2 separate regions of the Homo sapiens genome follow, and region 2 is linked to region 1. The links come from fine-mapping of genetic effects on gene expression. A gene starts in region 1. The other region holds a variant in brackets. All regions are shown on one strand. Distances are from middle to middle. Region 1 holds the start of ZNF444 (zinc finger protein 444). Region 2 has its middle 11 kb from the start of GALP.

Evidence for each region. PIP is the estimated chance that this variant, and not a neighbour inherited with it, causes the effect.
Region 2: its variant is the best candidate, but not a certain one, in a credible set for the expression of ZNF444 in fibroblasts (GTEx, PIP 0.53).

Annotation. Positions count from the first base shown.
Region 1 is chr19:56,139,954-56,142,862 of GRCh38, forward strand. It overlaps ZNF444 (zinc finger protein 444), which reads left to right and starts at 1,334. Exons shown (of 5, transcript NM_018337.4): 1 at 1,334-1,404. RefSeq lists enhancers at 797-1,126, 1,157-1,296.
Region 2 is chr19:56,163,956-56,166,864 of GRCh38, forward strand. No RefSeq gene overlaps it. Among named protein-coding and RNA genes, the nearest start is that of GALP, 11 kb to the right of the region's middle. The variant T/G (reference allele first, on the strand shown) is at 1,196.

The DNA of each region.
Region 1 (2,909 bases):
GTGCTCTAGGAGCAGAAAGGAGGCATGACTGGAACTCATTAAACACGAGGAGAAGACAGTGGTAGACAGGTGGGCCAGGGCAGATTAGGCCACCGTGGGCAAACTGGTCACAAAGTTCTGAGTCAGCCACTCATCGCTTGTGAAACCTGGGGAAAGTTGTTCATTTATGAATATAAGACGAACAACTTCCATGTAATGAATGCTTGTTATGGGTAAGCCACTGTCTTCGTTTTTATGGCGCGGAGTCTTCAGATCAGCCGGGGAGGTGGAGGATGGGAGGGGGATTCTCTTATCCTTGTTGTACGGAGGAGGAAATACGCTGCGGGCTGGGGTAGGGCTTGTATGAGCCATAATCAGGTCTGGAACTGTCTAGATAAAAACTTCAGCTGATCTCTTAGGATGTCTGTCTGCTCTAAAATCCAAATATGCTTCTTCACAGTTCTGAGATGCAGAAACTGAGGCCTCAGGACGGGGCAGTAGTCTGTCCAATAGGGGCACAGCGAGGACGCGTGGCAGGTAGCGCTGTCCCCCAATTCACCCCAGGGGAAACTGAGGCTAAAGAGAGGGCGGTGTCCTGTCCAGGTTCACACACAGGAAGAGCCAAACCGAGGCCCCCGCGCTGGCCCCCTCCTGAGCCACTGCCCACCCCGGAACAGGAGGGCAGCCTGCTCACGTCCTGATTCCTGGCACCGACATCGGCCCTTAAGTTCTGCCCGGGTGGAGAGGGAGGACAAAAAAAAATGCGATCCGTAGTCAAGGAGACGTAGCCTGCACTCCTGATTGGCGCAGAACTCTAGCCTGGTCTCCTCCTCCTCCTCCTCTTCGCTTGCCAGCTTCTAGAGCTCCGGAGGCCCCACCTCCCAAATGCCCGGCGGTGCCCGGCCTCCCCTGATCTCCACAACAACGCCGCCATGGCTCCTCCTCCTCCTCCCTCTTTTTTTCCCGGCACTTCTGCGCATGTCCAGGGCCCGCGCGCAGACCACTGGGAAGCCTCCTCGTGCATTCTGGGAAATGTAGTCCAAAGCCTGTCGCGCTCAGACAGCCCGCGACATTTGCGCCGTCAAGGCCAAATAGGCTGCAGACGACGCTTTCGCGTATCTTGGGAAATGTAGTTCCAGTGTTGGCGAAGACGCCACGCGGTGACAAACAGGAGTAAGGCGGTCCCCAGGCGAGGGCCAATTGGCAGCCGCCTTTGCCGCGATGCTTCCTGGGAGTTGTAGTTCGGGGTGAGGCCGGGGCTTCATGGGGAGTTGTTGGGCTGAACGAGCGGCTCGGAGTATGGGATTGGGGGAGGGGGACGGGGGAGTTTGGCGCAAAGCCTGCTGGGGCATGGAGTCCCGGCGAGCTTTGTGCGCATGTGCGGGGAGGTGAGGGGGCTTGGGGGGCCTCGCCTGAGAGAGTGAGGTGAGCGAGGGGGGAAGGAGGGAGGGATTGGGTGGGGGCGGTTGGACGAGGGAGGGACCAGAGGTTGGATGGGAAGAGGGGCGCCGGGGGCCTCAGGAGGGAAAGATGGGAGACTTGCGGGGAGGGGAGGAGAAGGGGGCTGAGTGATGGGGAAGGGGCTGGGAGAGGGAACTAGAGGGGGAGGGACTTGGAGAGGGGGAGGGGTGGATAGTGGGAGGGGGTCGTGGATCCTCGAGGTCCTGAACGCGGGAGAGAAATGCTGAGGGAGAGGACGGGGGAGGGGCGCCTGGGGGAGGGGGAGGGGCGGGACGGGGGAGGGACAGGTGGGGGAGGGGAAGGGGACCCTAGCAGAGGGTGGGCTGTGAGATGAAAGCTGAGTGGGAAGCTGGACCCTACAAAGGAGTCTGGGGGCGCCGGGACCGGACCCCTTCGGAAAGGTTTGCGGGAAGGGGCTTCCGGGGACGATGGTTATTGTTGTAACGTAGATACGGCGCAGGTGGCTCGTTTTGCGCGCTGCTTCTACAAGTGCAACTTTTACAGAGTTGTGAGATTCCTGAAGATAAGAATCGTTGCTCTGTTTTGCTGCTTTCTCAGTGCGGAGCATCTGCCTTTTTAGCTTGTTGCAAGGCATTATTACCTTCGGTAATATGTGTAAAGTGCTTAGAAACTCTGTTTATTGTCAAATGAAGTTGACCCCCGCCACCTCTACCCCAGTCAGGATGGAGTCACCCTCCTCTATATCCGATTTTAACGCCTATTCCAATGTATACTTAGTATTTTAATCTGCGTGCGTGTTCATAGCAGTGTCCCCTGGGCACCTCGCAGGGAAACTTCGACAAAGTAACCCTAAGTCTGACTGGACACTTACTAGCCAGGTGTGGTTCTCAGCATTTTTGTTCTCCTTCTATCACTTTACAGTCAACGAAATGGAGATACAGGGTATTACAAAAGGTGCCTTGTACCTCGTCCAAGGACACAGAGCTGGTAGGAGGCAGAGCTGGAATTTGCCCCAGAGCCTTTGTGCCGTAGGTAAATATTTGTCCAGTGGGCCAGCGGCTCTCAACCAGGAGTGGTTTTGTCCCCCAGGGGACATGTGGCAATGTCTGGAGACTTTTTTTTTGGTTTTTCCAACTTGGGAAGTGCTACTGGCATCTCATGAAAAGAGGCAGAGATGCTGGTAGACATCGTATGTTGCACAGGATAGCCCGCCACGACACAAGTGCCATTAATGTCGAGGTTGGGAACCTAGAGTAGACAAACCGGTCTTTGTCGAGCACTTAGCCTTTGGAGGCTGCTTCTAACTCCTGCTCCCAGCAGCCTCTTGAGAGGAAGGAGCTCTTGTTAGTCCTGTGTCTCAGGTGGAGAAATGAAGCACAGAGGGGGTAAGTCACACGTCCACAGTCACACTGCTGATGAGTGGCAGAGCTGGAAGTTGAAGCCAGGCAGCCAGACTCCACAGCCTCTTAGCCATGATATTAACCCAGCATATGTGGGTGCTGGTGCCG
Region 2 (2,909 bases), 24 kb after region 1:
AACAGCTCTCCCCACCAATATCCACTCTGATGGAGCAGGTGCCATGAGGGCTGTCCTGTGACTGATACCCACCATGTCTGTTGGACACTATCACATCTACGATCTTTATCCATCAACCCCAATACCACAGACCAGAGAACATCTGAATTGTGGTTTTGGATGCTGGCCTTGACTTTCTTGCTTCCGTCTTTATTGCTTGAGGGGTGAGATTGTTTTAAGAACCTGCTGGTGGCATGAGGTGATTTTTTTTTCTGCTTCCTCTCCTGGGGGCCCTGGCACCAGGGGCTCTGCCAGGACCCAGCAGGGGTTAGTTAATTCTACTCAATTTCCCTGGGTGACTGCCCCTCCCCTCACCCCTTCCTCTCCCCTGCTAAAGGGTTCCGGCTCTGGGGTTCCATACACCAGGTTCAAACCTCAACTCTGCTTCTTCCTTGCTGTGGGAGGAGGTCGATGATAGGAGTATCCTGGTCCAAGCCGCTCCAGTCCTGGTCTCTCTCACAGGTGATTGCTAACTGGGTCCCCAATCCATAAAAGTTAGCTGGGTGTGGTGGCACATGTCTGTAATCCCAGCTGCTCAGGAGGCTTGAGTCAGGAGAATCGCTTGAACCCGGGAGGTGGAGGTTGCAGTGAGCCAAGATTGCACCACTGCACTCCAACCTGGGCGATAGAGTGAGATCCTGTCTCAAAAAAAAAAAAAAAAAACAACTAGAAGTTTCCTGATGGGGTGGTCCCTGTCTACCTCGTACCCTCCACCCTCCCCAGTTAGTCTGCATTCCAGGTCCAGCTCATCACCCAGTTCCTTCAGCCCTTCCTTCCTCCACCCCACTACAGGACTTTTGCACAGGCCATTGGCTCCACATATTAATAAAATGTTGTTCTTTCTTCCTGCATTTGCCTAGTGAACACAAGAGCAAAACTCCATCTCAAAAAAAAAATAAATAAAAAATAAATAAAATAAGGGCATGAATCCCATTCACAAGGATGAAGCCCTCATGATGTGATCATGTCCCAAAAGTCCTACCTATTTACTATCTATTGTCTATCTATCTATCTATCTATCTATCTATCTATCTATCTATCGTTATATCTCCATCTGTCCATCCATCCATCCATCCCTAGACTGCTCAACAGACACGCTACCTCTTAATATTCTCACGTTGGGTATTAGTTTTCATCATATGAATCTTCAGGGGAC[T/G]CTAACATTCAATCCATAACATGGGGGTTACAGTGAGGGCTAAATGGGGGGAGTCCACAAGTCATGCTCACGCCTGTAATCCCAGTGCTTAGGAGGCCGCTGCAGGCTGATCACTTGAGGTCAGGAGTTTGAGGCCAGCCAGGCCAACATGGTAAAACCTCATATCTACTAAAAATACAAAAATTAGCTGGTGTGGTGGTGCTCAACTGTAGTCTCAGCTACTAAGAAGGCCGAGGCAGGAGAATGGCTTGAACCCGGGAGGCGGAGGTTGCTGTGAGCCAAGATGGCACCACTACACTCCAGGCTTGGGTGACACACAGCAAGACTCCATCTCAAAAAAAAAGAAAAGAAAAGAAAAAGAAAAAAAAGAAAAGTTCCGGGCGTATTGGCTCACGCCTGTAATCCCAGCACTTTGGGAGGCCAAGGGGGGCAGGTCACTTGAGATCAAGAGCTCTAGACCAGCCTAACAAACATGGTGAAACCCTGTCTTTACTAGAAATACAAAAATTAGCCGGGCATGGTGGCGGGCGCCTGTAATCCCAGCTACTCGGGAGGCTGAGGCAGGAGAATCACTTGAACCGGGAAGCTGAGATTACAGTGAGCCAAGATCACGCCACTGCACTCCAGCCCGGGCAACACAGCCAGACTCTGTCTCAAAAAAAAACAATAAAAAAAAACCCCAAAAAATCATTAAATATTCACGATTTTGGGGGGGCAGTGGTGAGCCAGTTGTTAAACTGTTGGTATGTTGAAATTGGCCCTAATGGAATATTTACACTATGGGAATTGGCTAACAGTACAAATGCAGGCATTTATTTTATTTTATTTTAAAAAGCTGACATTGGCTGGGTGAGGTGGCTCACACCTGTAATCCCAGCACTTTGGGAGGCTGAGGTGGATGGATCATCTGAGACTGGGAGTTCGAGACCAGCCTGACCAACGTGGAGAAACCCCATCTCTACTAAAAACACAAAATTAGCCAGGTGTGGTGGTACATGCCTGCAATCCCCAGCTACTTGGGAGGCTGAGGCGGGAGAATCGCTTGAACCTGGGAGGCAGAGGTTGCAGTGAGCCGAGATCGCGCCATTACACTACAGTTACTTGAATGACAGTGACTCTGTCTCAGAAAACAAACAAACAAACAAATAGAAAAACACAGAAATCTAGATCTTTATGTAAAAGTTTTGAAACCCTATATGCTCGTGATTCGATTTGCAATTTTCAAAACACTGTGTGGAAGTTTAGCCCAGTGTGGCAAGCACACGCCTGTAGTCCCAGCTACCCAGGAGGCTGAGGTTGGAGGATTGTTTGAGCCTGGGCAGTCAAGGCTGCAGTGAACCAAGATAGTGCCACCGCACTCCAGCCTGAGCAACAGAGCGAGACCCCATCTCAATAAAAATAAAATAAAATAAATAAATAAATAAAGCAAGCAAGCAAGCACTGTGTGAGCTACAATATGAAGGAACCAAAACAAACAAAAATCATAATGCAAACAAACAAACCCAAAGCACGTCTGAGGGTCTGGTTTTGGCTGCCCGTTTGCAAGTTCTGAGCTGGTTCCTCAGTTTACCAAAGAGGAGATGGAGGCCCAGAAGTCTGTAGTGAATTCCCTGCAGCCCCATAGCGGGCCAGTGAAATGTGAGGTTGTTTCCTCATTGCTCTGAGAGTTGGCATTGAGTGAAGATGAGTCCCCAACCCCTCCTCTCTGGGGGAT